Linked DNA regions of Homo sapiens: region 2 is linked to region 1. The links come from fine-mapping of genetic effects on gene expression. A gene starts in region 1. The other region holds a variant in brackets. All regions are shown on one strand. Distances are from middle to middle.

Region 1 (5,384 bases):
CAATGTGTTAATCAACTGTTTTATGTTATCAGGCTTCTGGTCAGTAGTAGGCTTATTAGTAGTTGTTCAGTTTTGGGAGAGTCAAATGTTATATGCTCACATAGTTGGTTGGTGCCCCTAAATTCCATATTATTCAAGGGTCAACTGTATTGACAAGTGTATCCTGGATTCCATCCTCCTTTCTTGGTTTTGTAGAGACAAGGTCTCACCATGTTGTCCAGGCTGATCTTGAACCCCTAGGCTCAAGCAATCCTCCCGCCTCAGCCTCCAAAGTGCTGGGATTACAGGTGCGAGCCACTGCAACCGGCCAGATTCCATCCTCTTAAGGCCAGTGTATTAGGTGGCTCATTCTTACAGTATGAGTAAGCAGGACTTATTTAGCCATCAAAAGGGTCCTTTTATTGCCTGTAATCCTCTACTCTCTATATAACGCTCCAAGGAATGAGACTATATTTCCGTCTCCTATCAACTCAGCCTCAGCATATGTTATCTCTAGTTATCTCTATTTTTCCCTTCCAACAAAAGCTGCTTTGGGGAAACAATCTGATGAATTAGGTATAAATGACTAATAAGGATTAAAATATTACTTTTCCCAGGATTATGGTTTTGTGCTAGAGAAAAAAACTACTTAAAGGGATAAAACTCTAATGGCAGAATTTCAGGTGAGTTGGAGGGTTTTTGATTATAGGTACTTTTCTAGCCTAGATGGTAGTCTGTCAGATTGGTCCTGAGTGTGAGTATAAATTTTAAAAAGGCTAGGACCAGGGCAAGTCTTAGCCTAAAGCAGTGGCTTGATCAGTTAAGTTTAGAGAGGAGGGTTAGGTTTACTCGAATCTATGGCATCACATTTAAAGGGGTCTCGAATCAACCTGAGATTAGAAGCAACACTGGAATCCCAGAATCTAGCTGGTTTTCCACTAGTATGGGAGATATTCCATCCTGGGATGCTTTAGGAGAGTGACCCTTTCAGTTCAGAGCTATGCCACTGAGTTCTGATCAGGCGCAAAACGGTTTTTGAAAACGGAGCAAGAAATCTTCCCAGCGATGATTACAAATAGCTTGTACAATATGCTAACTTTAGCTTTTTATGCAATGGTTAAGATTCATTTTCACATAGATATCCAGCTTGGTAACACTGGCATAGCTGCTGCCATTTCCTAGCTTCCAGCGAATACTCTTACCTCTAATTCAGCACTGAATATATCTGAACACTTCAGTACTACCTGTAAATCTTCAACTTCTGCTGTATGCTAAATAACCTAACATCTGTATTAATTCCAGCAGTTCTTCAAGTAGTTAAAAATGCTCCCAACCTGAATAAAATGACTTGAATATCTTCGGCGTTATTTCAAGTGTTTGCAACTAATGTACAACTCATTTTGGTAAATGATTACTTGGTGGAATTTATGAACTCTTTCCATTGGCAAGCCAAAAAAAAAAAAAAAAAAAAGGTCTGTAGGGGATATAGCTCTTTATTCAAACTTGGTAATAAATAATTATCTCTAGAATACAGACGGAAGAACTGAACCAGGGACTTCAGGGACCCAGAGGCTAATTATCATCACTGTACACAGTTAAGTGCAGCAGAGAATGGGGGTGACGAATGGTTCGCTCCGCATTACGCTCCTTCTCTGGGTAAAACAAGGCCGTCTTTTCTGTGAACATATTTAAAGCAAGAACTGCAAAAACTGTGCAATGTTATGGTTGAGGCTTTCTATTTGCCATATGTGTTGACAGAATGCTTAAGAGTCTCTCTCCGCAATAAACGCGAACCCTGCCAGGCTGAATTATTAGGGCCAGCGCAATTCAACGACTGCACCACCACCGAACCGCTGGGGTTGGAAGCCTGCGTCGCATCGGAGCGTACCCATGTTTCTTCTAACAAAGGCACGATCTTGAGGCCATTTCGCGGGCCCTTTTCCCACTCCCAGCGCCAGCTTTGTCTCCCCGCCGGTATGAGGCTGAGACTTGGAGGAGGCTGAGCTGCGCCGCTGGGGAACAAGCTCGAAGGGCGGGCGTGGGAAGCTGCACCGCGCTGCCGCTGTGGTTTCCTGCGACCTGACCGTGCCATTAGAGGAAGTTGGAGTGCTGCAGCTGCAAGAGATACCTGCTGCCTTCAAATCAGGGCTGGACTCCAACAACCCCTGTGCACCGATTACTGTCGTACAAAGAAACTCCATCGGCCGGCGCGGCGGAGGCCTGTGGGCTCTCTATCTCTCTGGCTGGGCGCTGGGCCGCGAGCAGACAGCAGGGTCGGCGTTGCCAGCGTTCCCCACCCTGGGGGGCTCGGGAGTCCGGGAGTGCGGGGTCGGGGAGCGGGCAGGGAGCAGCGGGCAGGCCTCGAGGGGCCTGGGCCAGAGTGGGCCTCACGGCGCGCCTTGCACGCGAACCCACGGCCGCCGGCTGCCCCTCCCCCGGCCCCCGGCCCGCTGCCCCCAGCCGCCGACGTCGGCCCGCACCGCCCCCGCGCGCTGACTGGCCCGCGCAGGCCTCCTGCCCGGCTGTTGGCGGTTGGGGCGAAGCCGGCGGGAGGCCGCCCCGCCCCCGCCCCCGCCGCAGAGTCGCGGCGCGCAGCCTCTTCACCCGTCGCGGCCGGGGCGGTGGCGCTGTTGCCGCCGCGGCCTGTGAGGCAGTAACTCCCCTCCGCCCCTGCCCCATTCCTCCTCCTTTCTCTCCGCTCCCTCCGTCCTCCCTCCCCTCGCCGTCTCTCGCTCGAGTGAATGTGGCGCGGCGGCGCGGGACGCAGTCTCGGCCCCTGCCGCGGCCCCGCAAGCTCGTGAGGAGACGGAGCTGCCTCCTGCTCCCGCCCCCTGCGCGTCTCGGGGAGCCACCGCCGCTGGCGAAGGAGAACAAGCAGGGCAGCGGAGGGACGGTGGCGGGAAAACGGGAGAGGGAGGAGAAGAGGGTTCGAGGGCGAGTAGGGAAAGCGGGGAGGGACGGACGGAAGGACGGACGGCCCGACGGACGGCCCGGGGAGGGGGCCGCTATTGAGCCTGCCCGACTCCTCGGCTCCGGCTCCGGGTGGCGGCGGCAGCGGCGTCGCGGACGAAGGGCGCGGCAAGCGCTATCGAGACAATAACCCTGCCGCCCGGCTCTGGGGGCAACGGAGAGGAAGCGGTGGCGGCCTAGCGCGGCCGAGGCTCGCCGAGCGCCCGGGCAGCGTCCTCGCCCCCGCCGGCCGGGTGCTGCTGCCGTCCGGTGTGCCGGGCGCGCCGGTTGCCCGGAACCCGAGGCTCCCGGCGGCCGTCCCCTCCCCTCCCCCTCTCCGGTGCGCGCGGAGCTGGTTTTCCGGGTTCCCCTGGACGGAGCTGGATCCTGCTTCTCGCCAAGGCAGGAAGTGAGTTTCGCACTGCAATTCCGGGCGGTGTCACGAGTGAAAAGTTTTGTTTTTTTTTTTTTCGGCGGAGATCCTCGTTGGGGCTGGGAAACTCCTGCAAAACTCGAGACCAGGAAGCCAGCCCGCACCCCAACCCCCACCAAAGCCACCTACTCTTCTTCTGTGGGAGGCCAGTCCACATCCGCTCTCACCCGAGAGAGATATTCAGCTGGATCCAAAGTGACTGATGAAGGGAAGGAAATCATGTCAAGCGAAGCCTTGAAAAAGCTGCCCTGAGACGGTGTCCCGCCGAAAGGTAATTTTCACGAAAAGTGTCTCTGAGTCACAAAGTTCATGGGACTTTGTGACTCGGAAAAGAGATGATTCTTTAGTGTTTTTCACTCTTCTCCAAGTTGCCCTAAACCCTCCTTTTCTCATATCGAAGCGGTTAATAATTGAGGGGCTAAATAATCGAACTGCACCCCACCGCGTCCCTTCTCCCCCCTGCCCCCCCCACCATCTGGACTTTGAATTTTTTGGAAGAGGTTGTAAGAATGCGGTGGGACGAAAAGTTTTTAGTAATCCGAAGAACGATTGCCTTTGTTCAGCACAGGGGCCAGAAGTTTTGGCTTTCTGGAACGTATAGAGTGTATATTAAGTTGCTCAGCCAGGCACCTTCTGTTTGGGAAGAAAGTTTGGTCGCTGCAGTGAGTGATTTGCTGTTATTGAGATGGCTGCCGCGTTTGTTTATACTCATACCGATTATATTGGCGCTTGCGTTAATTGTATATAGAGGTATTTATTTTTATTTTTTTATTTCCAACCCTGATCAGTATATTTAGTTAGATTTTAGAAACCAAAAAATCTTGCCATTCTTAGTTGTTTTTCAGGGTGAGTAATATATTTCTTTAGTTGTGTGTAGTGTGTGTTTTTCAGACGTTTAGCGCCGTATAACTTGTTTAATTAATTGAAAGCAAGGATCGACTAGGCTTTTCTTGTAACTGATCCATTACGAAGAAAAAAGGAGTAAGGACTAAGAATAGGGAGAGATAATTAAACAACATTAACAACCTGTAAGACGTTTAATAGGACTTCTGTACAGTTCAGAACAGACGATGGGAGGGGAAGTAAAACGCTTAAAACGATTTTCAAGGGAATCACAGTGATTGTGATAAAAAGCTGTGCTTTTCGAGTAGTATGGTCTTTACATTTTTGTGTTGTCCCAAATGTTTTTGGTCGGTTCTGCATAAATAGTGATAGGTTCTGCCTACATCTGTGGGGGCAGGATTCATGAAGCATGGCAGACATTCCACCAGTCAGAGCTATGAACACTTCTGAACCAATGGGGACTAGTTTTGATAGCAGTAAACCCAAAGTTTTTTTCAGTGGTGTTTTAGTCTTTTTCTGTTTACTTTTTTTCCCGGTATTTTTGCGGTACAGGGAGGTGAAATACAATACTGTACTTTTGAATATATATTGAATAAATTTGGTAATCCTGTTGGTAGGTATATCCTAAATATATATTGATGTTTAGATTGCCTATGCTGTCTCACGTAATGACCGGAAACCCGAGGAGAGAGTTGATTTTCTTTAGTTCAAAGAGAAAAAATAAGTTTTAAAGATCAGGATCAAATTATTTCACAATTTGTTCTTTGCTACTTCAGCTTCATTAAGTACATCTCCAAAGGCAGTCCTTTATTTATTACTGTAGTTTTGATTTTTTTTTTCCTCCCCGGGGCATGGTCTCAGGAGATTCTTTTTTTTTTTCATTGTTGGTAAGATTTGTGAACCATGGAATAATTCTTGTTAAGTCAAACTAGCTTTATCAAAGAATTTAAAGTGCATAACTCATCTACTTTATGATTTTGGAACGTATCATTAGGCTGCAAAAGAGGTTATTCTTGGGCATCTGAAAGAGGTGAACAAAATAAATGGCATTGAACTTCAGTTTCCTTATATGGCTTATACTTGGCTTCAAAAGCAACAAAACCTTAATAGAGCAAGTCCCTTACAGAGAATTATCGCTTTATGAAGATGGTTATTTATTAGTAAATTTTGTATAAAAAAA
Region 2 (5,384 bases), 44 kb after region 1:
GTCAAGCAATGCACGATTGTTTCTTCCAACAAAGATGCCTTTGGTTAATCAGACCTTATACCAATTATTTATTGTGAAATAAACCATCTGAAACTTAGTGATATTATAAACCAAGAAGAGTCATCAGTATTACCTATCATGGGTCTGGGGCTCATCTTGGCTTAGCTAGTTGGTTCTTGCTCAAATTCTTACGTGGTTGCAGTTAGATGGTTGCCAGGGCCATGAGCCAGAGCACCTGCGTGTGACTTCTCGGTAAGACTTGAGTTTCCTTACAGCAAGTGGCTGGTTTCAGAGGGCAAGTGGATGAAAGGAAAAGGGCAAAAGCCTAAGTGGCAACTGTATTAGCCTTTTTATCCTAGCCTTGGACGTCATGTAGCATCACTTCTGTTATATTTTGTTTTTAAGAAGCGTGTCACCAAGACCAGCTCTTATTCCAATGACGGGGAAGAGGATTTCACCTCTTGAGGGGAGAAGTGTAAAAGAATTTGTGGAAAATGTTATACCTACCACAACCTCATTCTACAAAATAGTGGCATCTTGTTGGTTAGGGATTAAGTTCTAAAGTCAGTGTAAGTAGAAGGTATCATGATGGGGAGACCATTATACATTCTCTGTCCGGCACGGTGAGGATTTTCTATAGGTTCAAGAAAAAGTCACTGTTTCTTCAACTGAATATCAAATAAGATATATTTGGCTTGTGTTCAGTGCCTTTCTTGTGTGGAAAATATATTTAAGTACTAGAGTAGCATTCAGCAAGGTGCAATTACCAGACTTTGAGAGGCTCTGTGGAAAAGAAAATTGACATCACTATCAAACTAGTTACAAGACCTACATTTATTGAGTAAAGAAGGAAGGTAGGCAGAATTACTTGCATTATTACTTTTATTTAATTTTGATTTAATTAATTAATTTATTTGAGACGATGTCTTGCTCCGTTGCCCAGGCTGGAGTGCAGTGGCCCGATCTTGGCTCACTGCAACCTCCACCTCCTGGGTTCAAGCAATTCTCCTATCTCAGTCTCCCGAGTAGCTGGGACTACAAGCGCCTGCCACTATGCCCTGCTAATTTTTCTATTTTTAGTAGAGACAGGGTTCCCTGTGTTGGTCAGGCTGGTCTCAAAACTCCAGACCTCAGGTGATCCACCTGCCTCGGCCTCCCAAAGTGCTGGGATTACAGGCGTGAGCCACTGCGCCTGGCCTATTGCTTTTATTTTTAAATTTGGAGAAATTATGTAGCTCAATTCATAAATAAGTAGATGAACGAAGCAACTACTTTGTTTTCCCAAATCTTTGTTTCAAATAAGAAGGGAAATATCGTGATTGAGAGGTCTCTTCCCTTCTTTTAGTAAAAATAATGCAATACCGCGTTTAAGGGCATATAAGTGAATGAGAGTTAGTATTGACCTTATGCTACTGTGATATATGTCAATTAAAAAAATGCTAATGTGTCAATTTCGGGAGGATAAAGCAAAAAGAAAAAAATGCTAATGTGAGAACAAGCATGCCAGCAAGCCATGGTCACCCCACACCCAATAAAACAGGTAAACAGGAAAACACAAAAAGTACCTGTGAGTATGAATAGTATATATAAAATATTTTCAAAGAAACAAGTTACTCTTATGTATCTTCAATAGAAAGGAAAAACTATTATTTATTCAGCTTATGTATAATTATGTTTTCTGTTGCTGATTCAGTTACTTTTGGGAAAGGCAGTACAAGTAAAGCCACTCAATATGGCTTTGTGTTGGACATTCGTAGTTTCTTAGAACAGCTAACGAAAATGTAGCTTTTATGCCCTTTGTTTTTTAACATAAAGAATCTGAGATTGAAGAGGTAGTGTGTTCAGGATTACAGAATGATAAATGGTGGAATCTAGACTCAAATGTAAAGCAGTATTATTTCCAAAGCCAGCTACTTTTGTGTTCAGCTATATTGTTTTTGAATTTTCAGTGATTTATTGGTAGGCTTTTTGTTATCTGGGAATTCCTTCTATTAAAATTATATTGTCAAGTGTTGAAATATGCAGGTTTTAACTAGTTGCATTGACACAGCTTGATTTTGTGTCACTCTAAAACTCACCCCCTGCTCCCCCAGGGAGCAAAAACAAATAAAAACCACATATAAACATAGCTTTCTAGGAACAGTAGTTTCAGATACTGCTTCCTAAATTGTTCAAATATCTTAGCTTTTCAGTTCTGTTTGTTCCAAGGTGGTCATATATTGTTATTTTTCAATAATCAGATTTAGTTGTTTTGCCATTTTTGTTTAGGGAATTACTATTAATTGTTTTTTAATATTAAGCATGATAAACTTCAGATGTTTCTCTTTTTAAAGACCTGGTTTTC[G/A]TATATTGAGTGGTTTCACTTTTGTTACCTTGCCCCAAAGTAATTGAATCAGCAACAGAAGAAAGCATGACATTTTAATTGTCTACGTCAAATTACATAATCTAGTGAAGTATGAAGACTACACTGTTAAATTATTAATGACTTTTGTTTATTAAACCAAGCAGTGAAAGAGATGGTATAGGGACATTCCCCTCATATTTTATAAGTCATACTACTGGCTAAATAGTATCAGGATTGTTTTTAGCTCTGCATTGCTAACTGAGTGATCTGTCTAAAACTTAAATTAGACTATGTCCCTCCTTTGCTTTTAAGTCTTAAAAACTGCTGCTTACCAGTCAAAGTCTATATTACTTAGTATGGTATTTAAAGCTTTTAAGTTCTAGCCCCCTGCTGACTACCCTAACGTCATTCCTATATATTTCAAAGCCTATCCTACCGAAGTTTGTCTGCTGGCAACACTAACTACTATTTTTCTGTATGTAGAGAGATTCTACACTTTGGTTTATATATTCTATTCTGTCCTATTTGACTGTTTTCCCTTACCACCAGACTATTTGGTCTCCTTTTTCCCCACATTTGTAACTTTTTATATTCTTTTTAAGACGTGCTCTTGCTCTTTTGCTCAGAGTTGAGTGCAGTCGTGAATCATAGCTCATCGTGGCCTTGAACTCCTGGGCTCAAGCAATCTTCCTGCCTCAGCCTCCCAAGTGTAGCTGGGGCTACAGACGTACACCAGCATGCCTGGCTAATTTTATTTTTATTTTTATTTTTAGAGACAGGGTGTTGTTGTGTTGCCCAGGCTGGTCTTAAACTCCTGGCCTCAACTCCTGCCTCAGCTGGGATTACAGGTGTGAGCCACTGGGCTGGGTGGCTATCATGTTTTATCTAAAATTAGAAACTCCTTGAGGCAGGGACCATTTATCTTTGTATCTTTAGTGTTCAGCACCTAGTAGTAACTCAGCAAATGTTTGTTTTCTTTCTGACATATTTGTCATATTTGTATTTGTTGTATTTAGCATCAGAAAGCCAAATATGGTCATTCAACGTTAATTTGACTGATTCCTTTTGTTATTTTAGTCCAGAATTGCTACCAAAGTGTTTAGGTTTGACCTTTTTGTGCCCAGGAAGTCTAGTCGTTTTGATGATAAATCTAAATTGGTTGAGGTGTAATGAAAAAGACAACCAGGTGTCTAGAAGTGACTGTGACAATTGCAGATTTATCTTGTTTGTGCATGCTGGTTTTTTTTTTTTTCAGTGTTCAAAGCCTGTATTGCATCAGGTTTTCAGGTTTAGATTTCCTAAATTTGGAACACAAAGTTCCCTTTTTAGAAGAATAGGTATTGAGCCCTTGAGCGTGGGTAGAAAGATAGAGACAGAGTGATTTGCAAAATAATGGAGGATCATATTTATATATGAATTTTCACTTATTTGAACTTTCAGATATCAGCTCAAAAGCTTTGGTATAAGTAAAGTATATTAATGAGACTCCTTGGATGAAAGTAACCAAAACCAGTAAAAATAAGGTAATAAGGATGTAATAGTTTCTTATGGACACTCAACAGCTAGAATGCAGTTAGTCTCAGAAAAGAATTAGAACAAATAACTGGAAGGCCATCAGGAGTCCAAAACCATCACTCTTTTATATTTTATATTTTATTTTTCTCTCTTCAGATGAGCATTCTCTTTCTATGTCCATATGGTAGAAGGCGGCAGCTCCATAGATTATGGCTTCAGATGTTACAGTTCCGCTAAATGCAGGGACAGACTTGCTATCTTTCAGTCCCACTTACATATCCTGGGGAGAGAGCAAATGATTGACTGGCTTGAGTCAGGTGCCCGTTCCCTTTCCAATCTGCTCCATCTAGGAGGGCAGTGTTACCTGGTACCAAAATAGATGTTAGAGGGCCACCCCTTTCAAAAGGGAGAATAGCTCTCACAACAGGGCTTCTATGTTGTGCAGGTTGCTTATTCCACATGCTGCTTGCCAAGCTGTATGCCTATAAGGGCTGCAGTTTTAAAATTTGTACAAAGGTGCTTTATGGATTTGTGGTAACCTTTTCTCAGAGAAAGGAGGAGTCATTGTGAATTGGGGGGCTATTCCAAGGGGGTCTGCTATGTCATTTTTGGGGGATATTTATTGTCCATCTTAGTATTGCCAGACTCTTAGCATTGAAATATTAGATTGTCTCTCACCCTTGGGCCATGGAGTTTTATTGCAGCAAAAACAAAAATCCATATGTATATAAGTGTTTTCTCAATAGGTATATTGACAGTGGACTTACTATGATGTGGAGCTTTGACATTTGTGGACCTGCTGCGGTGTCCTTACACTCATTGAGAACCATTGATGTTACGCAAATGCTATTAAACTTTGCATCTAAGACTTCTTATTTGTCCTGTGACCTTTGATTATATTTCAACATGCATAAAGTACTTTAGAGAGATGGGGAGTGCCATGTATGTGAATGAACTTGGCACTAAGCACCCCATAGTTTCTACAGAAAAATTTAAAGAATATTTGTTACTTAAAATTAAGTACTTTCAAAATAATGTTTGGTTAAGTAGAAGCTTAAATTTTTGTTTTTCTTCTTTTCCTCTCCATATCTGTTATACTATTTCACTTACAAAATAAATCTTCAGCCTTAAGGGATGTTTGGGATAGTTTTACAGGATTATGGATTTTATTCCTAAAATAGATCTGAATGCTACAAAAAGTGAAACTTTTTAAAGATAAGATTGTCATCAAGTGGTGGTATTTTAAAGCTTTACTTATAAGCGGTAATAATTAACCTTTGAAAATCCTGCTGTAATAAGGTGTTGAGAGTGATCTAGCTTTCTTTGGAAGGTTTTTGGTGTTCCTAATCATTCCCAGCCTAAATTAACCCCAAGGAAAATGAGAACTTCAACCTGACCTCTCATTGTTTTGCCAATTCCTACGTTTTTTTCGGTTTCCTTTTGGTTCTTTTATTTCTGTTCCTTCTGTTCAGTTTAGGGGAAAGAATAAACTTATAAAGAAATTCACCTTAAGAAATTAGGGCCT

What was found. PIP is the estimated chance that this variant, and not a neighbour inherited with it, causes the effect. A credible set is the group of variants that fine-mapping cannot tell apart.
Region 2: its variant is the best candidate, but not a certain one, in a credible set for the expression of ERBIN in whole blood (INTERVAL, PIP 0.85).

The regions. Positions count from the first base shown.
Region 1 is chr5:65,923,175-65,928,558 of GRCh38, forward strand. ERBIN (erbb2 interacting protein) reads left to right here and starts at 3,401. Exons shown (of 26, transcript NM_001253697.2): 1 at 3,401-3,632. RefSeq lists enhancers at 1,501-2,125, 1,625-1,844, 2,750-3,374, 3,335-3,554 and a silencer at 2,165-3,254.
Region 2 is chr5:65,967,663-65,973,046 of GRCh38, forward strand. All of the region lies in intron 1 of ERBIN (erbb2 interacting protein), which reads left to right. Among named protein-coding and RNA genes, the nearest start is that of ERBIN, 44 kb to the left of the region's middle. The variant G/A (reference allele first, on the strand shown) is at 2,345.